5 separate regions of the Homo sapiens genome follow, and regions 1, 2, 3 and 5 are each linked to region 4. The links come from fine-mapping of genetic effects on gene expression. A gene starts in region 4. Each other region holds a variant in brackets. All regions are shown on one strand. Distances are between the middles of the regions.

Evidence for each region. PIP is the estimated chance that this variant, and not a neighbour inherited with it, causes the effect.
Region 1: its variant is the best candidate, but not a certain one, in a credible set for the expression of PIGG in lung (TOPMed, PIP 0.68).
Region 2: its variant is the best candidate, but not a certain one, in a credible set for the expression of PIGG in whole blood (TOPMed, PIP 0.87).
Region 3: its variant is the best candidate, but not a certain one, in a credible set for the expression of PIGG in whole blood (INTERVAL, PIP 0.83).
Region 5: its variant is the best candidate, but not a certain one, in a credible set for the expression of PIGG in aorta (GTEx, PIP 0.81).

Annotation. Positions count from the first base shown.
Region 1 is chr4:520,299-525,400 of GRCh38, reverse strand. PIGG (phosphatidylinositol glycan anchor biosynthesis class G (EMM blood group)) reads right to left here. Exons shown (of 13, transcript NM_001127178.3): 7 at 4,128-4,345; 8 at 3,460-3,741; 9 at 1,488-1,942. Among named protein-coding and RNA genes, the nearest start is that of PIGG, 24 kb to the right of the region's middle. The variant C/T (reference allele first, on the strand shown) is at 2,424.
Region 2 is chr4:412,239-417,340 of GRCh38, reverse strand. No RefSeq gene overlaps it. Among named protein-coding and RNA genes, the nearest start is that of MIR571, 65 kb to the right of the region's middle. The variant TC/C (reference allele first, on the strand shown) is at 2,117.
Region 3 is chr4:529,070-534,171 of GRCh38, reverse strand. PIGG (phosphatidylinositol glycan anchor biosynthesis class G (EMM blood group)) reads right to left here. Exons shown (of 13, transcript NM_001127178.3): 11 at 3,427-3,736; 12 at 191-354. Among named protein-coding and RNA genes, the nearest start is that of PIGG, 32 kb to the right of the region's middle. The variant C/GGAAGGGAACCAGC (reference allele first, on the strand shown) is at 2,817.
Region 4 is chr4:496,843-501,944 of GRCh38, reverse strand. PIGG (phosphatidylinositol glycan anchor biosynthesis class G (EMM blood group)) reads right to left here and starts at 2,735. Exons shown (of 13, transcript NM_001127178.3): 1 at 2,456-2,735; 2 at 1,344-1,549. The coding sequence starts at 2,609. It overlaps ZNF721 (zinc finger protein 721), which reads left to right and starts at 2,789. Exons shown (of 3, transcript NM_133474.4): 1 at 2,789-2,889. RefSeq lists enhancers at 1,774-2,637, 2,595-3,074, 2,638-3,503.
Region 5 is chr4:536,203-541,304 of GRCh38, reverse strand. It overlaps PIGG (phosphatidylinositol glycan anchor biosynthesis class G (EMM blood group)), which reads right to left. Exons shown (of 13, transcript NM_001127178.3): 13 at 1,105-2,152. The coding sequence ends at 1,936. Among named protein-coding and RNA genes, the nearest start is that of TMEM271, 38 kb to the left of the region's middle. The variant T/C (reference allele first, on the strand shown) is at 2,894.

The DNA of each region.
Region 1 (5,102 bases), 23 kb before region 4:
TCTCGCCGCAGATGCTCTCATTGTGCTGCTTCTTTTGCTTTAGTTTCCTAAGTCTTCACTGCCAGACAATTAAAATTTAAGTCTCGGCAAATCTTAGTTATTTTTCTGTCCTGGTTTCTTCTACTTATTTCGAGCCTTGCTTGAAATGATTTGCTATACTTTCTAGGTGGTTTTCCAGTCGCCAATGAAAGGCTCAGGAGGTGGCTGAATTCCCCCACACGGCTCTGTCCCTTCAGGATGAGGAGAGAGAAAAGGGAGGATGGGGAGGAGAAAGGAGCTTTGCTAAGGGCAAAGCTGGCCCACAGAGGCTGCGCCTGCCTTGCCTGGCTGACCCCGTCCTTCTTGCTGCCCTGGGGATCATCAGCAGCAGGATAGGGGTCTGGGGGAATGACATGGCTTAGATGTTTGTCCACTGCAAATCTCATATTGAACTTGGACCTTCAGGCTGGGCACAGTGGCTCACGCCTGTAATCCCAGCACTTTGGGAGGCCGAGGTGGGTGGATCACTTGAGGTCAGGAGTTCAAGGCCAGCCCAGCCAACATGGTGACACCCCATCTCCACTAAAAACACAAAAATTAGCCAGGCATGGTAGCGGGCGCCTGTAATCCCAGCTACTCAGGGGGCTGAGACAGGAGAATCTCTTGATTGCAGTAAGCCAAGATCGTGCCACTGCACTCCAGCATGGGTGACAGAGTGAAACTCCGTTTCAGAAAAAAAAAAAAGACACTGAACCTCCAGTGTTGGAAGTGAGCCTTGTGGGAGACGTCTGGGTCATGGGGGCAGATTCCTCACGAATGGCTTGGTGCCATCTTCGCAGTAATGAGCGCATTCTCGCTGTGGCTGTTCACAAGAGAGCTGATGTTTAAAAGTGCCGGACACCCTCCTCATCCCTCTCTTTCTCCTGCTCTCGCCACGTGAAGTGCTGGCTCCTGCTTTGCCCTCGCCATGACCGCCAGTTTCCTGAGGCCTCTCCAGGAGCAGATGCCGACACCATGCCTCCTGTGCAGCCCGCAGAGCTGAGAGCCAAGATGAACCTCTTTCCTTACATGTGACCCGGCCTCAGGTGTTTCTTTATAGCAACACACGAATGGCCTGACACAGGCAGACACTGAGTGATGGGCGGGGGGCACACAGCCCAGGCATGGACGAGGCGTCCAGAACAAGCCACTAGCAAGCTTGACCCCCACATAGCATCTTTACTATATAATGATCACTGAAACACAAGTTTTCAATCATGAACAGTTACAGTGGTTCAGCACTAATAAATGAAACCTGTTAGGCTAGCCCCCAAATAAATTCACTTCTCAACATTGATTCTAGTATCCAGTAAAACACTGGTTTTAGTGTATTTTCCCAATTCTTCAGATCTCAAATACTATCCCATTCTTAATATGAAAAATGGTCTCAATTTAGAAAAAGAAGAGCTTGGCAGGTGACCAATCGGCCGTAGAAAGTCTGGCCTGTGGCCACGGGCCTACGCTCTCACCTGGTGAGCCAGTGGCCGAGGTCAGGCCGGTGAGCCCACTGCACACCTGTCTGGTTTAGGGAGCGCAGCAGCCGGCAGCAGGCCAGTATTAGCCACGGACTGGCCAGCACCATCCACTTCTCGCGGCCTCTGAGCACTTCGGAGGTAGAGGGGCTTCCGTGGCCTTTGTCTCGCTCCAGGACATCACAGCCAGGCCCGTCCTGCCACGCTGCTGTGGCCCCGTCATGCCCTTGTTCCACACAGAGGCCACACGGAGGCTCACCGTCATCTCCCAGAAAGTAGTTTCTGTAGGTTTCTTGGCTCAGAGCTAGACACAGGGTGTTCACAAGGAAGTACCAGGTCTGGTGCTCCTCCTCCACGAAGCTGCTGGCGCCCAGGCTCAAGACGTGGCCCGCCGTCCCCAACAGAATAAGAAGGTCTAGCTCTGACCACCTTGAGCTGGGATGCATGGGGTTCTGTGAAAAGGAAAGTGCACTTTGTAAGAGACGGTCTGATAACGACACACATCTTGCTGCATGTCAAGTCCTTGCTCACAGCAGAGAATGCCCTGGACACACACCATTGTTCCTCACACCCAGCACCTGGGCCCCTACTCTGGAACAGCCCCCTTCTGCTCCAACGGCAGGAACCTTCCTCTTGGGACGCAGCCTGCAGGAGTGGAGACGCCCTCAGCCCAGGCAGGGGAGCCGGACACTGCACGGCCAGCCAGCTGTTCTCACACTGGACTCCAAGTCCCAAGGTGAGTGACAAAGACTGAAAATGGTCAGAACCCTCTGGGCAGTGGTGCAGCCCAGAGAGCTTGCCCAAAGGCTCCTGGACCCGGCCCTCCACGCTCCCGCTTCCAGGCTCTGGAAGAGCTTAGGTCTTCAGATGCACGTCGCCAGTGCCTGCTTCTTGAAACCAAAGAACCTCAACAATACATCCCACCAAACCAGA[C/T]CTCAAATTTCTCCAGGAATATTCTAGAAATCCAGAACGTTTCCACTAAAATGGTTAATTCTGTTGAAATGACAAAGTTGGCATCACAGTACTGTCTCTTAAATATACTAACTTAAAGCAGTCAAAAGTAAAGATGAGGACTCAATTATTGCCGTTTATTCTTTTGGTAACTACATACTGCGTGCAGCTAGGTACTAATTCAATAGCAGGAGAGAGAGCATGAGCCCAGATGGGCCCGAGGTGCAAGCGTGGCACAGATCATCCTGGCTCCGAGGAAGCCTGTGCCCTGATGACAAAGCTGTGAGTGTCTCGGTCAGACACTCAGCACAGGGCCTCTGACGGCTCAAGCCAAGAGGGGATGAGGGCTGCGCAGGGTTGGGGTGGGGGCCCAACAGTCCTGCTGCCACTGCAGTGGGTCCCTTGATCCTGGGCTCTGTGGATCTGAGTGTGACCATCCGCCTCTTCCTCACTGCCTCACCACCACTCCCCAGCTAACGAATGAAGGTGTCCGAGGCCAAGGACTAAGAATTCCAACAGAAAACGTCCGCCTTGGAAAGAAATCTGGACCTGATGAGGCAGGATGCATTCTGGGGGTGGCAGGATGAGTGGTGCGACCAAGTCTCCTTTTGACCCTCCTGAGTGTCCAGGCCGATTGTCTCTTCTTCCCTCAGCTGCAGCTCCCACACCTCTGCTGGGAGGCTGTCCGATTCACACACCCCCTCAGCGGGGGGGCTTGTTCCTCTGTGACCGCCAGCTCTTTACAATCACCTTGGTAACAGTCGCAGGAACCTAGCTTTCCAAGAACTGAGGCATCTGACCTGACAGCACAGATGTGAACACCTGTGTCGGGACACCCAGAGGCCTGGGATAAGGCTGCTCCACGTCCTTCCCTGAGGCCCCCTGTCCAGGGCACTGCCAGCACGTGGCACACACCAGGTGTTCAACCAGAGTCTGGTAAACGAAAGGCAGCCTGAAATAACAAGAACAACCTGAGCAGAAGGACTACGTCACACTCCCAGGAACCAGCCGTACGTACCTTCCTTGGGGTGTTTCCACCCACGAGCACGTTGGTCAGAACAGACACAATCACACACAGCAGCGCCGAGGCCAGCACCATCACCCCACCTGCCGCCAGCCACGAGAGGCCACAGAAGTAGCACGAACTTTCAGCTGAGGTGCACACAATGACGTGAACGGCCGAAAGAACCAGGATCACCAAATAAAAGAGCAGAGAAAACCCAGGAGATGACAGTGGGACTTCCAGCTCAGCCTTTCTGCGCAGTGCCTGTGGGACGCTGAGCAGGAGCAGGGTGAGAACCTGGAACAGAGAAACAGCAGCATCCACAGACTGCTGGGCTTGGAGAAACCCACTTAAAAATAAGCCCAGCTCCCGCTCTCGTGTCAGCTGTCCACACAGTAAAAACAGAAAAGCAAGCTCAGGAAAAGATGATTCCTAATTAACTGCCCCAAAATGCATGGCATGATTTTTTTTTATCACCTGCAGCAATACTGAGTGAGGCCAATTGACACTGACAATACTCTGGGTCTTGTCACAAATCAGGACACACCACGAAAGAGTTAAACAAGAAAATTAATATTTTCCCATTTTTAATAACACCTATATATATATTTAAAACTATAAATATTTGGCTGAGTTATCAAATCAATGCAACACCTGAGCCATGACTGTGTGAGCATCTGTACCTCCAAAACCACGACAGTCCCCACCATCATCGAATAGATGTCGTACTGGGCCACTTGTGCACTCAGGGACAAGCTCAGCGTCTTCAGAGCATCCAGGTACTGCCTGAGAACCTTGGAGCCCAGGTTGAATAGGACTTCTGAATGCTTTTCCTCCAAGTACAGTCTGATCCAGTTCCCATGCAATCTTTCTGACATTTTAAACTGCTCAAACCCAGGATCTATTAAGAAGACAGAAAGGTTACAGGCGCGCACACACACCGTGAACATACATTTATATACATAATCTCAAAGTATTCGGTTATGCATGGCACACGGCAAAGCCTTCACTTTTCACAACTGACGCTTAATGAAGATCAATCATTCCTTTGGGTGGGGGGTCTGCAACGCCTTCTGTAAAGCTGGGAAAGCTGCCAATGTGCATCCATCTGCCCTCTGGCGATGCAGGCCTTGGTCCTTGGCATACACCCGCGGATGGCAGTGACTGACCCCTGTGCTGCCTGGCCTCCTTCTCTGCCTCCCTCATCGCTCTTACTTCCTTCTCCCTGTTCTGTCTCTTTCCACTCTCTCCTTCTTGTCAACGTGCAATATAAAAACAATCCTGAAATGCATTATGTCAACAGTCAGGTTTTAGAGTCTTTCTAACCCTTACAGCACTGTATGGGGACTGGGCAGGCAGCGGCCTGACCCTTCTCTGCCACACCCACTTCCCCAGTGCAGACTGGCCCTTCCCGACCTCTAACGTCCCCCGTTCTGCAGCCTGGGTTACTTCCTTACAACCTCTTTGGAAAGAGAGCTTCCAGCCCTCTCTGCTCACAAGGGTGAGCTCTGCTGGGCGCATGGATGCCCTGCCTCTGGATGGAGCCCTGCCCCTCTGCTATGGCAACCTCTTTTAAACCACAGTGCCATGCTGCTCACGGCACAGCTGATGTTCTTTCTTTCCCGAGCTGGCTGATGCGTGAGCCTCTGCCGGGACCA
Region 2 (5,102 bases), 85 kb after region 4:
GTGAAACATTCTCTAATCTTGAATCTGATTTTGCCATTCTCATTCTCCATTCTGCCTTCTCCCTCCCATCTTCCTTCTAATCGTTTGATCCTCCATATGAAAAATCACCCTTATCTGTCTCATTTTGGAGGTGCTTGCAGATCTTGTGCTTAGTGCTTTTTCCATTGCAATACTCCTTAAAATAAAGTCACTTCTTACCTACATCAGAATTTATTTTATTTGATGATATCTAGAAACAGCCCGATGACAATAACAATTACACCCTCTCAGAGGACATCACAACCCTCCTCCCATCCCAACTCTCACTGCATCTGCCTGTGGATCCTCAGCTTTCCAGGGCTCTGTAGCTTCTCAGTATAAAGGCTCCTTTCATGTCTAATTTGAGCCAGGCTGGGACACCTGCAGAAAATGTTCCCAGGAAGAAACTACCGGGCTACTGATGACCTCCTTTGGCAGGGTCAAGATTGGCCTTACCTTGCAGTCAACAGTCTTAGGTCTCTGATTCCCAGTCAAGATTATTCACTTAGTTTTATATAAAAGAACTCGGTGTTTAAAGAAACCAGCAAAATTCCTCAAACTCATTGCTTATGTTTATAGGAGGAAAGGAGATTGTAAGGCACTTACATTTTATACTTCAACAAGAAAAACCAAAATATATATCAATTTCAGACAATAATCATTTAGGTATTATTTCCATAACAACAAATAGGAAATCATACATGAACATTAACCAGGAATGTCAAGTCCTATTCCATAAAATTTAACATTAAATTCAGACATCCAGATAACAGCATACAGAGCAGACTTATTCATTACTACAAATTCCCCACCACGCAGAAAAGAGAAACTGATATTTTGGCACATCTCTAAATCACCAATTTATCTACCAAAATTTCTTCTAAAAATGCATTCAGTTCTCTGCAGCCATAGAGGAAGAGAAATGTTTCCTACTTTTTTTAACCCAGTAATATTCCCATAACTAGGCCCTGAGGTTCTGTTTGAAACCACTCCCAAAATATACAGATCTGAAAAACTTATTACACGTGTCAAGGGAAAACGAAAGAATTTTTAACAAATATACCATTAGACATTTTTTAAGTTTACATATTTATGCCTCTTTGAGAATATTCTCCTATCTTTCAAACTCTACCAATAAAATGCATTGTACAGTTAATAAAATGGAAGTTGAAATAAATAAACATTTTTTTCAAGATGACAAACCCAAGGAGTGGCAGTACTGGCTGGAATAATGATATGTCTGACTCAAGTGTCAAGTTGGGCTGTCTGTCGTGTGATGTACATCCTCACACCTTTATCCTTCTCACTGAAGTACTCAATGACCACCCTCCCAAGAGCCTCTGCACTGCATCCCCATGTGTGCCTGGAGTGGTGTTTTGTGTGTGTGTGTGTGTGTGTGTGTGTTTGTGTGTGTGGGTGCAGGTCCATGCACCATCTTGCTAGAATGGACTTTGTCTCTGGGGATACTATATTCTTCTCCCTTCACAATTCTGAAAAAATCCAGATGGTAGAAATTATTTCTGCCTTTCCCCTCAGTATCAGCATTCCATTGGCTGAGCAGCAATGTGATTCCAAAAAATGGAAACTGGACTGGGAGAAAGAAAATCTTAATGCCACAAGGATGTGGCTTTTTGAATGAAGCGTAAACCACAAGAGTGCTCTGAGCACCAGGTCACCCAGCTGCTTCCGAGAGGGTCCACCCCACACCTGAGGCCGTCCACTATGAGGAGATGATTCAGTAACTGTTATGCCCTAAGCACTCGAAGACACATGGCTACCGTGGGCATCTGGGATCTTCCCCAGACAGTTCTGAAGCCTAGGACCAGGACAAGACAACAGGATGGCTGAGGACAAATTACCTTCTAGAGTTGGGAACCTAAACCCCAAATCGTTCTGATAAAGTGTCTGTATCTGAAGAAGAAAAAAGAAGAGGCACAAAGGATGCACACTTTTACCACTATTATTCAACATAGTACTAGAAGTGCTAGCTAGAGCAATGAGACAAGAGAAAACAATAAAGGCCATCCAAACTGGAAAGGAAGAAGCCAAATTATCTTTGTTTGCAGATGATGTGGTCTTATATTTGGAAAAACCAAAT[TC/C]ACTAAAACATGATTAGAATTGATGAATTTAGTGAAGATTTAAGATTTAAAAATTAGTAGTGTTTCTACATGCTAACAGTGAACAATGTGAAAAAGAAATCAACTAATCCCATTTACAATAGCAACAAATTCAAATTAAATACCTAGAAATTAAAGAAATGAAAAATCTCTACAATGAGTACTATAAAACACTGATGCAAGAAATTTAAGAAGACAAAAAACTGAATAATATTTTATGTTTATGGATAGGATGAATCAACATTTTTTAAATGTCCATACTACCCAAAGCAATCTACAGACTTAACACAACCTCTAGAAAAACATCAATGACATTCTTCCCAGAAATAGAAAAAACAATCCTACAATGTAGACAGAACCACAAAAGAATCAGAATAGCGAAAGCCATTGTAAGAAAAATAAACTGGAGGAATCATAGTATTTGACTTTAAATGATACTACAGAGCTACAGTAATTAAAACAGCATGAAACTGATCAGTGAAACAGTAGAGAGAATGCAGAGACATATCCACATATCTACAACCAACTTATTTTTGACAAAGGTGTCAAGAATATATACTGGGGAAAGGAGTCTTCAATAAATTGTGCTAAAAAAACTGAATATCCATATTCAGAAGAATGAAACTAGACAACATCTCTTGTCATATAAAAAAATTAAATCAAAATGGATTAGAGACAAATCTAAGATCTCAAACTACGAAACTCCTACAAGAAAACATTGCTGAAACTCTACAGGAAATTAAACTGGGCAAAGATGTCTTTAGTAATACCCCACAAGCACAGGCAACCAAAGCAAAAATGAACTAATGGAATCCCATCAAGTTAAAGTGCTTCTAAAGAGCAAATGAAACAATTAACAAAAAGACAACACATAAAATGAGAAAAAATGTGTAAACTGCCCATCAGAAAAAAAAAAAAAAACGAGAATACATAGTGCGCACAAACAGCTCTATAGGATAAAATTGAATAATCTGATTATAAATGGGCAAAAATTTGAATAGACATTTCTGAAAAGAGGGCATACAAATGACAAAAAGACACATGACAAGGTGCTCAAGATCATTTATTATCAGAGAAATGCAATCAAAATGACAATGAGATATTATCTTACTCCAATTACAATGGCTCTAATCCAAGTCAGGCAATAACAAATGCTGATGAGGATGTTGGGAAAAGTGAACTCTAGTGCTCTCTTGGTGGGAATGTAAATTAGTACAACCACTATGGAGAACAGTTTAGAGGTTCCTCAAAAAATGAAAAATAGAGCTACTATATTATCCAGCAATCCCACTCCTAAGTAGGTACATAAAAGAAATCAGGACATCAAAGAGATATTTATACCACCATTTTTATTGCATCAGTGTTCACATTATCCAAGATTTAGAAGCAACCTAAGTGTCTATCAACAGATGAATGGATAAAGCAAATGTGGTACATATACACAATGGAATATTTTTCAATCATAAAAAAGAATAAGATCCTGTCATTTGCAACAACAAGTATGGAACTAGAGGTCATTATGCTTTTTTTTTTTTTTTTTTTTGAGACAGAGTCTCACTCTGTTGCCCAGGCTGGAGTGCAGTGGCGCGATCTCCGCTCACGCCATTCTCCCGCCTCAGCCTCCCAAGTAGCTGGGACTACAGGTGCCCACCACCACGCCGGGCTAATTTTTTGTATTTTTAGTAGAGACGGGGCTTCACCATGTTAGCCAGGATGGTCTGGATCTCCTGACCTCGTGATCCGCCCGCCCCGGCCTCCCAAAGTGCTGGGATTATAGGCGTGAGCCACCGCTCCCGGCCGAGGTCGTTATGTTTACAGATATAATCCAGGCATATAAAGTAAACTTTGCATGTTCTCACACATTTGCTGGAGCTAAAAATTAAATTAATTTCATGAAACTAGAAGGAGGATTGTTACCAGAGGCTGGAGAGTATACTACAGGTCTGGGAGGAAGTGAGGAAAGTTAATGGTTTCAAAAAAATTAGAGTAAGATTTAGTAGTTGCTCATATAACAGAGTGACTATAGTCAAAAGCAAATTAACTATACATTTTTAAATAACTAAAAGAATGAAATCAGATTGTTTGTAAAACAAAGGACAAATACTTGAGATAGTGAATACCTATACCTTGATGTGATTTTTATACATTTCTTGCCTACATTAGAAATCTCATGTTGGCCGGGCACAGTGGCTCACGTTTGTAATCCCAGCACTTTGGGAGGCCGAGGCGGGTGGATCACAAGGTCGGGCGATCAAGACCACAGTGAAACCCCGTCTCTACTAAAAATACAAAAAAATTAGCCAGGTGTGGTGGCGGGCGCCTGTAGTACCAGCTACTCAGAGAGGCTGAGGTAGGAGAATGGGGTGAACCTGGGAGGCGGAGCTAGCAGTGAGCCGAGATGGCGCCACTGCACTCCAGCCTGGACGACAGAGCAGGAGTCCATCTCAAAAAAAAAAAAAAAATCTCATGTAACCCATAGATATATAGCTACTGTGCATTCACAAAAATTAAAAATTAAAGTAATAAAGATATCAATTTAAACTGCAAGAACAAAAACCACTGATCCTCATTTCTTCATAGATAAATGATCTTAGCACCATATTGATTACATCGCCTTTGTGGGAATTCCAAAACATAGTTAAGAATATGTACTACTTCACTTTAGCAAAATGCCAAAAACATGTAGAAGAGAAGAAAAATGTTATTACACATGCTCAGTACATCCTTACCTCCTCCCAATACAGTATGGTGAAAACAAGGAGAAACTCCCAACTCTATGCTTCTTCCTCAGGAGAGAAAGAGAAATGTAGAATATGTGTCCACATTTTTGGTTTTTAGGGGGCTGTCAAAGATGGGTTCCCCTGACACAGAGTGCTGAAGAAAAAGGTGGTATACTTTGGATGACAGCAGCTATGCATTTTTGCATTACTATAAGAAGCAATCCTAAAGTTATATGAGAACTAAGGA
Region 3 (5,102 bases), 32 kb before region 4:
CTACACGGACACCTCAGGCCGGCTTCTGGCCCTTGAGCTTTGGACCGTTCCCTATTTAAGGAAAAGAAAACTGTTGAAAAGACTGTTGGACCCATGGAGCTTAGACCCCCTTGCATCTGGAACAAAGTACGACCCTTAAAACCAGGCAGCCGGCCCCCAGAACTGTGCTGACGGCAGAGAGGCGCCTCACCTGCGTGTTTCTGAGCTCAGGAAGTGCACTAAGTGGCTGGCCCACAGCACAGGCCCTGCGTACGTCCCAAACGCTGTCAGGAGCACGGCTGGGATTTCCACGTAGGTGTCTAAGCCCACGAAGCCTGCGGAGATGTCCACGGTGGCAATGTTGTTGGAGTTGCCCTGGAATACAGGAGAAGAGCTGACAAAGGCCTCACAACACGTGGCATCAACAGCCACGATGTTAGCGTGAGCCACGATGTTAGCGTGAACTGTGTAGGCAGCCCAGATAACCACGCCGGCACGGACACACGTGTGGTCAGAGGTGGCTGCCCAGCCGTTCCTTCAGACTGCCGAGCTGGCCTTGCCTAGGTGGCACCCCCTCCCCCTGCCTGCAGTGCCCAGGCTGCGGAAGGGCACGTGAGCGGACCGTGCAGAAGCTGGGGCCCCCTCTGAAGAGGGACGCACACACAGACCGGCTGGCTGACTGTGCCACATCTAAGACCCTTGTCCAGACCCATCGACTTAAGACAAGCACATGAAGCTCCCCTCAAGGACCCCCATCCGAGGGGCGCATAGGGCCCTGAGAGGCCAGCTGCTGGGCCCAGCCAAGCGGGGAGCTGGGCTGAAGACTAGAACGGGCACCCAGCCAGGTCCCATCTACGGTGAGGTGCTGCCAGTGGGTTATATGGTGGAGGGCAGGCCAGCCACTGGGGGAGCACAGCCCCTGGTGCAAATTGGTAACTCACATCTGGCTTACGTATCAGACCATGAGGACTCACTTGGTCTGGTCAAACTTCATCTGTCAAGGTTCTGGCCAGTCCCGGCCCAGCCCTGGTAGGTAACTCCCTGCAGGATGCAAGCGCTGATGCCACACAGCTTACCCTGCTCCTAGTGATTCTGGATCCCAAAAAGGGGTCTTCTGAGAGACCCTGCCTCTCTGCGCAGGCCCCGCCTCTCCACTCCAAGACCACACCTTTCCACTCCTAGGCCCTACCTCTCCATTCCTAGGCCCCTCCTCTCTGCTCCCAGGCCCCGCCTCTCCACTCCAAGACCACACCCTTCCACTCCTAGGCCCCACCTCTCCATTCCTAGGCCCCTCCTCTCTGCTCCCAGGCCCCGCCTCCCCACGCTCCATCTTTACTGACTCTGATGTCTGTCACTTGCCTGTCATGCTGACCTTTCCTCAGAAACTCATGACATCTACAGTCCGACAGCACATGTCTCTATCAAGCTCAACGAAGATCCCTCTCCAGAACCAGAACTGTTCATGTCCACAAAACACTGGCTGGGTGCTCACCAGCTTGGCTCCTTCCTCCCTTTCCATGCAGAGAGCTGTGGGCCCAGGGGGTCCCCAAGTCATGTTGATGCTGCTTCCCCATTATCTCACAGATGTGCATTGACTCCTATCCCTGTTGTCTTAGGCCCCAGCCCTTTGACTTGGCTTGCCCTGAGACCCACTGGACTCGCAGCTACTGCCTCTCTTGGACGGTGCCACCCCAGTCATGTGTCTCCTCCACTTGGAAGCTCTTCTGCAGGGAGACTGAGGAGAGAGCAAACAGGCAGAAGCAGTAGGAGACCCTGGAGGGTGGCAGGGGGACAGAGTCCCAGATGCCACGATGGGAGCAGGGGAGGAGGACACCTAGGAGGTCACTGTGGCTCTGAGCAGGCTCAGCCAAGCACAGAGACTGCCAGCCATGCTGACATGTCTGCAGCTGCACAGCAGCTTTACCTGCATGACTTCATCTAACCCAACAGTCCTGATGTGCTTCGTGATTATCCTCATCAAACAGGGAGGAAACGGAGGCAGAGAGACCCAGGGACTGGGCAAATGTGGAGGGCCAGCAGATGAGCAAGGGCAGTCATGTTCCTGATCCCTGATCTGTTAAGGAACTGCCCAGTCGAGGGCAGGAAGTAGGGATGGGCAGCAAAGCCACAGGTTCCTCTCAGAGGAGATCTAACACTGAGGGGCAGCGGACTCAGCCTCAAAACAGGGGCCACGGGGAGGTGGGGAGACCAGGGAGGGCTGGGTCCTGGGGAGGCCGGGAGACCACTATCCCTGGTTTACAGATAAGGAAACGAAGGTGTGGCAAGAGCCTGCCGGAGGCCACCTGGCTTGAACGTGCTGGATACCAGCATCCAGGCCTGCAGTTCTGCTGGGGACACCCTTGTGCCTTGCGTGGACATGGCAGGGAGAGCTGCAGCTGTGTACGAGGAGGACAGGGGCCTGAGCGGATCAGAAGGGTCGGGGAAGCACCAGGACGGGGCTAAGAAGCTGGCCATTGGCCACCTACTCATTGTACCTGAAGACACAGACTTCTGTAACTTCACGCCTACCACCTTTGGGCTTCAGGATCAGGGGGACAGACATAAAGACAGAAAATCCTGCAACTGTGGGCTGTTCCATGGGAAAGGCTGGGAGCACCAGGAAAGGAGAAGAGGATGGAAGAGAGGCCCTGTAGGGACACAAAGAACTGCACATGCCTCCTGGGTACGAGACAGCGGACAGGCAGACACCGGTGCACACCAAGAAAATACAGACCTCACGGTAGAGACCAAAATGCAACCACGACGTTCAGCTGCTGCAAAGCGACTCAGCCTGGGAGTCGGCACTGGAAGGGAACCAGCAGGGCTGTGCCTGCTCT[C/GGAAGGGAACCAGC]CTGAGGTTGCCGGGAGGCTGGATGAGGCTGGATCCCTCTGAGGCCCCATCTGGCCTGCTCTCCTGAGGTTGCCGGGAGGCTGGATGAGGCTGGATCCCTCTGAGGCCCCGTCTGCCTGTCCCTCTATGTCTCTTCAAACTGAGGTGGTTTGGGCTTGTCTGGGATGGGTCTTTAAACACCGGACAGAAGCCCTGACGACCCACCAGGCTTCAGGGAGCTAATAATCATGGGGGCACCAATGGTCCCCAGTGTGGACAGCCCCGACACCAGGGGCAAAGGGCATGAACGAGAACAATTATTACATTCATCAGTGAAGCAAGTGAACAACGTGATGTCTGTGCTTCCTGAACTGCTTGTAATAAATAAACCCAGGCCTGGCCCAGCAAAGCAGCAGTCTGCTGTCTTAAGCACCCACACATCCACACCTGGGACGCGTGTCTTAAACAACCGGCTGTACTTTGTCTTATAAAATACACGAGAGTTCAGCGTAATTCACCATGCCACACTGACAGTCACTTTCCAACTTATGGGAACATTTTCTCAAAGAAAAATTTAAAATAAATATGTAAAACATGAAGTCTACTACCCATGATAATAATGAAAACCTACCTGAAAATAGAAGAATGCTTGACCAAACCAATAATGCATCACAGTAATCTCAGCTGCATCGTGTCTCAGGGGCTTCCAGATGAATTTAGTCATTAGAGTCTGAATCAAGAGGCTAAATGCTAAGACCGGAAGATTATGTGGTCTAAAGAGCAAGGCTGCCAGAAGAACTAATCCACTATATATCTCCCATAAACCTACAGTCTTGAGTTTGAAGTCTGCAGCAATGACTTGAGATTTAAGTAAGTCTTTGGTGCCCGTGAACAGAATGCCAAGGACAAAGACATAAACAAAACGAGCTTCAATAATACCCCTAAAAAAGAGCAAAACAAGTTAGATTCATTAGCACCAGTGAGAAAAATTCAAAAACATTTTCCCATGAAAAACACACCTATCTACCCAGGGAACCAGTAAATGTCCAGCACTGCTGACTAAAGGAGCCGCGGCACCCTCCCTACCCCCCAGGTCCTGTCATGGCAGTGGGCATGTCTCCTCCGCACAGCAGCCCTGAGGAGCCGCCGCCACAGGCCCACAGGTGTGTCCTCGTGCAGACTCTTCCGCTGGGGCTGGCTTCGGGGAGATCTTGCTCATTTGGCTCATCTGGTGGCACGACCCAAGCGGTGCCCTCGTGGCCCGCCTGCTTTGCAGTTAATTAAAAAAAACCCAACGCACTAGTATAAGAGTCAACTCTAAGAAACTGCTGTAAGTTCATAAATGTTCATTGCACAACTGAGCAGATTTAAAGAAGGATTTGCACATTTACAGGTACACATACATGCAGTTATAGGTAAATAAGCACCTGCACATTCACAGGCACACACGCGTGCAGTGGTGCAGTCATCCAACCCGCGGGCTCTGAGAAAAGGCAGAGCTCTGCTCAGTCCGAGCCCTGCTGCTCTGCTCACTAGCTCTCCTACTCGGGCGTGTCAATCAAGACTTCTGACCCTCAGCTTTGCTATTTGTGAAATGGAGAGAAAATGGTTCTACACTTCACAAAGTCATCCTAGGAATTAAGCAAGGGAATGCAGGGAGTGCTTGGCACACAGTAAGCTCAGTAAAATTAAGTACTCTTATGATAGTTATCTGTAAAGGATACAATTACCAAAAAATTTCATCTTACAAAACACGTATGTTCCTAAAACATAATATTTTAAATAAATTTTGTAAATGAAATGCTTCACACAGCCTACAAATCTGATCATTTAAAATAATCGTAATTTTTAATATCATAATATTGTGAAAACTGAATTTTCCTATATTAGATTTTCTTAGAAAGCTTTTACATTAAGAAAGTAAACTTTGATCAGTTTAGTTCAAACAGCCTGAGCACTGTATACCATGTGCCTGGCAGTGTGGCTGCCAGGAGGGGCCCACATCCTGGCTGAGGAGCTGGGGTCAGGTACCTGGCAACCCCCACAGGCCAAGGTGTGTGCTAAGTTAAGAGTGAATTATAGGCCCATCTGCATTCAAAGAAGGGAGAAATCAGCAAAGGTCACAATCACTGGAGAAGTTTCATAGAAGAAAAGGGACTGGTTTCTGTGTCGAGAGGATGCTAGGGCAGGCAGGGTGATGAGCAGGAGGGGCATCATCCAGGGCCTTTGGTGGGTCCTCCTCCTCCTCCCCTGGCCGGGCAGAGTCTGATCCTGCTCAACCAGGCCCACCCCGCTTCCACCTCCACT
Region 4 (5,102 bases):
CCCCTTCATTCTCTCTCACCTCCCTCTCCATTCCTTCCAGAGCAGTTGTCACTGTCTGAAACCATCTTCATTGATTCATATTTTACCGATTTTCTATCCCTCCAATTAGAAAGTAAGCTCCATGAGGACAATGCTGTCTTGTTCTTCACTGCCTCCCTCCTGTCTGGAACAGTGTGGCACACAGTAGATGCTCAATAAATATTGCTGAAGGAAGTCACATCACATTGAAATGCGGCAGAGAGAGTAAGAAATTCAAGGAAAAAGTCAGTGAGTGATATGGCACTGTGCTTCCTTCAGTCTCAGACTGCTTTCATCCAGTGAACATCTGCCAAGCATCTGCAAATGGGGCTGCCCCCAAGCCTTAAATCAATAAGTAGCTCCTTCTCACCAAATAATGTTTCACATGATCAACAACACAGCTAAGGCTCCGTCAGAGACTTTATGCCACGCTCACATGCGATACACTCACACACTTCAACCCCTCTGCTCCTTTCTGTCCCCACCTTTATTCATCCTTCCAGTCTCAGTTTAAATGCAATTTCCTCAGCCAGGCTTTCTCACCCACTAATCATCACATCCTGTTCTTTCTCATCATGCATTAACCACACTTTACAACTGCATGTTTTCATATGCTCCTTTGTTGAGTGGCTGTATATCTAAAGACTAAAAGCTACATGAAGGCAGAGATACTATTTTTTCCCCAATTGCATACCCATTGAAGTATCACCACATAGTCGTTGCTCAAAAGTTTTGAGCCAATCAATAAAGGCTTACTTTTTTCTTTACCCACGGTTCTTGGGAAATGCACTATGTACTTCAAAGCTGCTGTCAGTAGGCTGGACACCTGAAGGATATGGTGGAAACAGTGGTAATTGTTGAGGCCGGAACATACTGATTTGATCATTATGTATACTGGTGGATAATTTTGGAGAAGTCACATTTAACTTATCTGAGTTTGCTTTCCTATCTATAAAGTCTAGAGACTGAACTAGATTAACTCTAAAGGCTCCTTCTAAGATTGTAAATGACCCAGTGACGATTAAAGAAGAAAGCAGGTCACCAAGAATGGCATATCTTGGGGTAGGTTAGCCTGGATGATCTTGCTCTAAATCTTTTATATTTGCCATGAAGCATGAGCTTTGGCTACTTGACATGGGGCACAAATGATGGGTCTCAGTTCCATCCCGTGTGAGGCTCCTTCAACATTCTATTGCCCCAGCCAACTGACAGCACAAAATTTCCACTTTCTTAAAATTGCAACTCCAAGCGAAAGACTACAGAGACCCCCTCTAAATCTTCAAAACAGCCAAACCATGATTCATAAAACATTAAGGCAAACTTACCTTGATTCGAGGCATAGTAACTGTAGGTGGCTTTGCTTCAGCCACAAAACTGTGAGATGCTCCTTTTTCCACAAGGTAAGTTGTGTAGGGCATAAATTTCACACCCTTTGACCCAAACACAAAATCATCTCTCAAGGCATCTATCAGAACAATAACAACTTTACTGAAGAGAGGTGGTGGCAGCGTGGTCCAGTTAGAACTGGCTCCTAAGTGTTTGAAAGAAAAAAAAGGAAATTGAACTCTAAACTTTCCTTAGCATCAAGCACCTTCACAATCTAGCTTCTACCTACTTCTCCAGCACATACCCTGCGATATCTACATAACCCAACCCAAAAGGAGGCGACTTGTACTTGGTAGGTAGTGCTGGGGGGAAAGGACGGGGGTTAACAGGAGTAATCTTAGGGACCCACAGTAGCAAGCAGTGAATTATCCTCAGTATGGTGAAGAGTACTGGGGTAGGAGAATCCCTACGTAAGGGTCCTGGAATGGGACATTTAGGGAGCTTGACCTAAAACGCAGAGCTGCAGCTACGGGATGGCTGGGCGTTTACATACTGCGTTTACATGGTCAGCGGCTGGCGATGTGTGCAAGTGGTCCAGAACCAGGGCGCCTTTACTTGCTGTATATGGCTGGGTAGGTGAAGCCTAGGAAGAGGCCTAACGCAGAGAGGCCTTAGCCCCTAGGCAGGGAAAACATCTTGGAGGAATATAAGAGACCAAAACGCGAGGGGATCGGCAGGGGTCTTATCTGTTGTGTGCTAGGGGGCAAAAAGGGCGCCTATAACGGGGAGTGACCCAAAGGCTGCTCAGGAAAGGGGCGGGAGCTCTGGACGAGTAGAAGTGGAGAGGCTGGATCCCAGGTATGGACACAGCTTACTTTGTGGTGATCAGGAAGGAAGGTCGAAGTGGGGCCAGTAGAGGTGGTTGCCACAAAGTTGTAAGAATACAGAAAAGAGACGCTGGAGCGGTTAAAAAAAATTTCTGAGGTGGGGACCATAATGGAAGAGACCACCGGGGAGCGCCGAGAAGAAATCCGAGCAGCGAGGCTCAGAAAAAAGGTCTTCTAGGGGATGTGGGGTCAGGGGAGCGGAGACGCCGGGGAGGGGTCCGTACCAGCCGAGGGTTCGGGCGCTGGGGGCTCCGCTCCGTGTTCCGCTCTGGCAGAGGAACGAACGGGAGCCGGGAAGAATCCCCGAAGGAAGACCGCGATCCCTAGCACCTCGATCGCTACGCAACAGGTAGCGAAAGTCCCGGAGCCCAGCCGCATCGTGGACACGCTAGGCTGGATGCGGAACCGACCCCACCTGGAGCCTCGCCCTGCTGCAGCCGCGCTTCCGGCTCCAGGTAGCCGCCTCTAAGCAATAACGCCAGGCCTTATCGTCGCAGCGACAGTGGCGTCACGTCCGCCGGCGCGCCACAGCAGCGCGTCACTTCCGCCAGCCCGCCACAGCGGGGCGTCACCTCGGACATACGAACAGCGGGCGGTGTTCCCGGCTCCGTGGGGCCGTCTTCCCGGCGAGTCCGCGACGGTCGCCGCCCACGGCGAGGTACGAGGTTTTAAAAAGTTTTTAATTTGGAAGGCAGGGTGCAGTGGCTCACGCCTTTAATCCCAGTACTTTGGGAGGCCGAGGCGGGCGGATCACGAGGTCAGGAGATCGAGACTATCCTGGCCAACATGGTGAAACCCCGTCTCAACTAAAAATACAAAAAATTAGCGGGGCGTGATGGCGGGTGCCTGTCGTCCCAGCTACTCGGGAGGCCGAGGCAGGAGAATCGCTTGAACCTGGGAGGCGGAGGTTGCAGTGAGCCGAGATCGCGCCACTGCACTTCTGCCTGGCAACAGAGCGAGACTGCGTCTCAAAAAAAAAAAAAAAAAGAAAATTCAACCCAATACCTCAGACAACTGGTAAATATCTTAATGATTAACTTCGTTTTAAAGATGCCACATGAGTGAGATCATGAGGTATTTGTCTTTCTGTGTCTTATTTTGCTTACATGATATCCTCAGGTTTATCCGTGTTGTGGCAAATGATAGGGTTTCATTCTTTTATTAGAGCTGAATAGTACTCCATTGTGTATATATACCACATTTTCTTTTTTCTGAAAGGAAAATCTTGGGGCCCCAAAATTACTAAACTAAGGGAAAAGACAAGCTCGGAACTGCTCAGGACAAACCTGCCTCCCATTCTATTCAAAGTCATTCCTCTGCTCACTGAGATAAATGCATATTGATAGCCTCCTTTGGAGAGGCTTATCAGAAACCCAGAAACTGCAACCATTTGTCTGTCACCTACCTGTGACCTGGAAGCCCCCTCCCTGTTCCAAGTTGCCCCCGCCTTTCTGGACAGAACCAATGTCCTTCTTTTTTTTTTTTTTTTTTTTTTTTTCTTTTTCTTTTCAGATGAAATCTCACTCTGTCGCCCAGGCTGGAATGCAGTGGCGTGATCTCAGATCACTGCAACCTCTGCCTCCCGGGTTCAAGCAATTCTCCTGCCTCAGCCTCCTGAGTAGCTGGGATTACAGGTGCGTGCCACCACGCACGGCTAATTTTTGTATTTTTAGTTGAGACGGGGTTTCACCATGTTGGTCAGGCTGTTCTTGAACTCCTGACCTCGTGATCCGCCCGCCTCGGCCTCCCAGAGTGCTGGGATTTACAGGCATGAGCCACCGCGCCCGGCCTGTTTTTTTTTTGTTGGTTTGTTTTTGAGACGGAGTCTCGCTCTGTCGCCCAGCCTGGAGTGCAGTGGCACCATCTCCGCTCACTGCAAGCTCCGCCTCCCGGGTTCACGCCATTTTCCTACCGCAGCCTCCCGTGTAGCTGGGACTACAGGCGCCCGCCGCCACGCCCGTCAAATTTTTTTTTTTTTTTTGTATTTTTTAGTAGTGACGGGTTTCACCATGTTAGCCAGGATGGTCTCAATCTCCTGACCTCGTGATCCGCCCGCCTCTGTCTCCCAAAGAGCTGGGATTACAGGCGTGAGACACCGCGCCCTGTCCGGCCTGTTATTATACATATGATTGATATCTCGTGACTCCCTAAAATGAATACAACCAAGCTGTGCCCCGACCACCTTGGACCCACGTCGTCAGGATCTCCGGAGGCTGTGTCATGGGCGTCCTTAACTTTGGGAAATAAGCCTCCTGAAATGATTAAGACTTGTCATTTTTCTCGATTGACATTGATAAGCACTGAGAGATCCTCAGTGAAGGTAACCCGGCCTGCAGCAGTTCGCCTATTGATCCTCGGTATTGGCTTGGCACCTTATTGCCCAAACTGGTAGGATGATTGCTGAAATCTGGGACCTTGTTCCTCCAGGGATCCCTGATCTTCCAACGTTTTTCGGTGGGGGGTCTGAGGTTTATTTGCTGTTAAAAAACTCCTTTTTTGGGAGTTCCCACTCGCTTCATCAAGGAAGGCAAGCCTGCCTGCTTCTGCATCGACAGATAGCCGTCTTCAGCTTGAGCCCCATCACTAGGTAAGAAAATTGATTTGGAATTTTGTCTTGCAAATTCTTTTTAAATGACTAAAGATAACATTAACAACCAGCTGGTGTTTATTTCTGCTTACACTTAGAGCGTTCAGAAGTCATAGGCTGGGCGCGGTGGCTCACGCCTGTAATCCCAGCACTTTGGGAGGCCGAGGTGGGCGGATCACGAGGTCAGGAGATCGAGACCATCCTGGCTAACACGGTGAAACCCCATCTCTACTAAAAATACAAAAAATTAGCCGGGCGCGGTGGCGGGCACCTGTAGTCCCAGC
Region 5 (5,102 bases), 39 kb before region 4:
CCAACCTCCCAAAGTGCTGGGATTACAAGCGTGAGCCACCATTCACTCTTTAAAGACTTTTCTGATGAGCTCGGTTGTGATATAAATAAGTGATTTTGGTATGGAATAATGAACAACATTTGGAAATTTCTATCATCCAGTGAACTGTTATTTTCCAAACAACAATGCAGATGTTAAGAATCACATCTGGGTAAAAGTTCCATTCAGGGTGCAAGACAGGTCAATGTGTCGTAATGCATCAGGACATGAAAGTTCATTGATATGATTTCAGATTCCACATGGCAGCTAACCTTTTCTTTTTCAAAATAACTTTTGTTTTGAAATAGTTGAAGACTCACAAGAAGTTGCAAAAATAGTATAGAGAGTTCTACATATCCTTCACCCACCTCCCCCCAATGATGGTATCTTACACAACCAGATAAATACCAGGAAAATGATGTGGGCACAATTCTATTAATTCGAATACAGCCCTCAGTAGCATTTCACCAGTTTTTATATGCACTCGTTTCTTTTCTTTTTGTCCAACTAACCTTCAGCAAACTAACATTTGTTGAGTTTTGGTGTTGGCATCAAAAAAGATTTGGTGTTGGTATCAAAAAAGAACATCCACAATAATCAGAAAAAGGACATTAAAATATGCCTCCTCTTTCCAACTACTGATCTGAGGCTGGATTTTCTTCATATATATATAATAATTATTATTTTTTGAGATGGAGTCTCACTCTGTCACCCAGGCTGGAGTGCAATGGCACAATCTTGTCTCACTGCAACCTCTGCCTCCCTGGTTCAAGCGATTCTTCCACCTCAGCCTCCCAAGTAGCTGGGATTACAGGCACCTGTCATCATGCCTGGCTAATTTTTGTATTTTTGTAGAGACAGGGTTTCACCATGTTGGCCAGGCTGGTCTTGAACTCCTGACCTCAGGTGATCTGCCCCCGCCTCAGCCTCCCAAAGTGCTGAGATTACAGGTGTGAGCCACTCTGCCCAGCCGATTTTCTTCTTATATTGTAACCAAACACACATATCACAACAGGTCAAACACAAAATCCAACTAGCTTCAATTAGGCCAGGCATTAAAGAGGTTTGTAAAAATGTAAAACATTATCACTTTTCTCATTAAACATTTATTTTTTCATTTTAAAGACAAGAGTCTCACTCTGTTGTCCTGGCTGGAGTACAGTGGTACAATCATGGCTCACTGCAGCCTTGAACTCGGCTGAAACAATACTCTTTCCTCAGCCACCTGAGTAGCTGGGACCACAGGTGTGTGCCATCACGCCCAGCTAATTTTTTGAAGTTTTTGGAGAGATGAGGGTCTCACTATGTTTCCCAGGCTGATCTCAAACACCTGGGCTCAAGTGATACCCCCACTCTGGCCTCCCAAAGTGCTGGGTCTCACTGAATTTTTTTGTTTTGGAAAATATAGTTACTTTTCCTTCAAGTGTTTCATTAATATGCAATAGATTCCTTATAAATGAATACTTTTTTATCTTAGTTTTCATCTCAAATGCCATAAACACTGATACATGTAACCCTCATAAACCAAAGCGCCTTGGGGCCCTCAGTGGTTTGTAGGATTCTAAGAGCTCTGTGCTCCCTAAGGTAATCTGGGTGCCTCCTCCCACAGAGCTCCTGGACTCTAACAAAGTCCAGAACCTTTTCATTCATTGATTTAAACACACATATTTGGGTCACACCATAGCTTATTCAGAGGAAATTAAAAGTTCAGAAGCTTCTAGAGTGATTGTCAATGGGGGAAAATATGATACAAACTGTATATTAAAGTGATCTTTTATTAAACTATTTACTGCTTAGTCTAAATTCAGGTAGAGCAGTCAAAGAAAGTTATCCATCAACTTTGTTGAATTCATATCTTTCATTTTAGAATAACAGCAGACTTTAAGCATGTATTATTTTTCCAGTGTTCAGCTTAGTCTAAGACTGTGTGAGTCTGGTTTGATCCATTGCCGTGAAGAATACACAGACAGCAGCTGTAATGAGCAGGTGCATTCCCTCGTAGAGAAGTTTTGGAGAAAATACACTCCATATAAATAAATGATAACGCAGAGATGTCACCAAAACGATGTACGTGAAAACTGGAATAGAACAAATCAGTGCGTAGCAGAAGCAAGCATGACTCAGTGCTGAACCACTGTTAATAAGAAAGAAAATGTGTATTAGCACATGCCACTTACATATCACACATGTAACAACACTTTTATTTTCAAAAAGACTCCAGTAGCTCTTGCCCTTGGAGTAGAGGGCACCGCGTTCCTTCTTCTGCACACACATCCAGTCACTATGGTGCTGGGACAGGTGCCTCTCCAGATGCGCTGGAGACGGGAAAACCCAACCTGCCCCCTTGGAGGCTGTGTTCTAGTGAAGGAGGCAGGAGAAACCAGATATGTAACATGTCAGGAAGAGACAAATTCATGAAGAAAAATGAAGCAAACAGAAGGATGGGTGAGGGCCACCATGTCCCCCCCCACACACACCTTGAGCTCTCCAGAAATGCTTCTGAAACTTGACTGTATGTAAAAATCACCTACAGTATGTGCTGGAAGTGCCACTCTGGAGCCCCCCCTACAGAAATCTGGATGTGGTTGGTCTGGGGTGGGCAGAGGTCTGAGTCTCCAGAAGGCACGGAGGTGCCCGAGGGGACATGAGCTGCAGCCCCAACTGCTCAGCCACTGTCTGCCACCGTCATCTGTAAAACAGCTCTGAAAAACGCACCCCCCAGACTTTGCAGTTATTTAAAAATTATATATGCATGTGCTACTATATCACATGCATTATAAAATACAAACGATGAATAGAAAATCACAAAAGGGTGAGATACAAATAAACATAAATACAAGTTCTGAGCTTTTCTCCCTGCTGTGGTGTGGAGGAC[T/C]GTCTGGTCTGGGGACACTGGCCCAGCGGGGTTTGCTGAGCAAATTCTCGGAATAAGAGCCACCCCTCGAAGTATGTTAATGTACCCCCTAGTTTTGAAACCACCAACACACTACATAAATCTCTTCCTCAAAGCAACTTCCCTGAGTCTGTGATTATTGAAAAATGATAAATTACATTATTTGGGCACTTTCCATGCCTCATCCATGACCTCTGATCAAGTTCTGTTAGAAAGGGCCCGGAGGCAGCCCCCAGATCCTCAGTCCTGTCGGCACGTGTGTGTGTCTGGGTGTGTGGGTCCCGCTGCATGTCCTGTAAAGGGCCCCTCGGTCCTGTCAGCACGTGTGTGTGGGTGTGTGGGTCCCGCTGCATGTCCTGTAAAGGGCTCCTCAGTCCTGTCGGCACGTATGTGTGTCTGGGCCCCACATGCATGTCCTGTAAAGGGCTCCTCAGTCCTGTCAGCCCAGCAGCTCCACCAGGTATTACTTGAGGGTGTCCTGTAAGTGGCTCCTGCTTCAGTGCTCACTGCTCAGGAAAGGGTGTCAACAGCCACGAAGGGCCAAGGACGGGGCTGTCTCTGGCCCCTCCACAGCCTCACCTCAGCCCCCCACCGGCTCCCCATCTCAGGCCTTGGAGGGGCCCATCCTCCTCTTGGCTTCTCCAAACACTCCTTCACCTCAGCCCGCCATGTGCTCCAGTAAAATACTCAGACCCTGGGATCTCCCGGTGGGTGGCCGGTGCCTCTGGTCCTTTCACTGCTTTCCTTGCCAGGCCCTGGCTCCTTAGGCGGGTCCCCCAAACCCGTACCGCTGGTCACCACTTGGTATCCAGCCCCACAGGCCGGGGACCCCACAGGGAGGTGGACCCCAAGGTATCCTCAATACACCTCCTGGTGACAGCAACACCCAGGAAAAGGTGAACATACTGGGCAGGAAGATTCGTGGCTAAGTGGGCCGTGGCCCCATCCTACCCAGACAGCGCATGGGGAAGCTGTGGCTTAGACATGGCACCACCTTGACTTCAGTTTAACACTTTATAGCGTTACCCACCTAGAAGATGGCGGCTTGCTGTTCCCACCACTTTAGCAAAGAGCCATTTGCGCTGCAGGGGAGCAGGCAGCCCGGGGTGCCAGCCCCTGGAACAGAGGGTCGCCAACCACTCAAGGCCACGTTTTTGACCTTTTGGAAACATATTTTCTCTGTCTACAATTTAGACCTGGTTATAGTTTTCCTACTCTACTGAAACAAAATAGAAACCATGAGTAAAACTTGATGCTTTAAACTTTTAAAAGGGAAGAAGAAAACCCTATAAAATGAAGGAGAAATGCTTCTTGACTAGGAAAAATATCATGATACTCTCCAGTTGATCAAAATGCTTTCACCTCACTTAATATTTGTCTTTTTCCCTCCCAAACACAAACGTGCCTGGCTGTGTAAGAGATGAAAAGTGCCTGGTCCATCAAACCGCAATCTGCAAGCACCAGGGCAGCTGCAAGGCCGAAGACCAAACCTACAGAGAGAGGAGCCGGGCAAGTACTTCCAGCCCTCCGTCTCCAGCTGGCCACTGGGAGGTGTGCCGTCCACCCAACAGGTGCTTGATCACGCCGCGCACAGCTGTAGCACATCCGTTCTCCAGGGCAGAGGCAGATGCACCTCCACGCGCTCACGCCCGCTTGTCCTGACACCTGACCACACGACGTGCTGACAGCCCACCCCAGACGGCCGAGGACGGCGTCTCCTGTTTCTGTAAGGCCAGTGTGAGCACGCGGCTGGCCTCAAAACCAAGTCAGAGAAAGACGTCCCAGGGCAGCTGCTGAGACAGGCGGACGCCGAGCAGGGGTCTCGTGGCAGATGTTTGTTTTTATGCAGAATCGAAGTCTGGAAGGACGTCTCCACACAGCGCCGCCACAGTGGGTGTCTCCCAAGCTGGTCTGTTGGTGGCTTCCGCCCGCAGAGCCTCAGCTTTCTGCTGTGATGACAAGCTCAGCGGTGACTGTAAATTACGGGGGTCTGTCCACAGACTGCCCCAAAGTGGGCGTGTCAAGCGTCCACAGGCACCTGAAGAAAAGGCAGGTGGATCTCAGGCATTCCTGTCCCCGGGAAGCTTGCAGTCTGGCCAGGGAGCGATTCTCCCCTTGGAAAGGCTCCATGTCCGCTGTGGGAAGGCACGCGCCTATCACTGCTGAAGCAAGGCCAATGCTCCCCCGACCC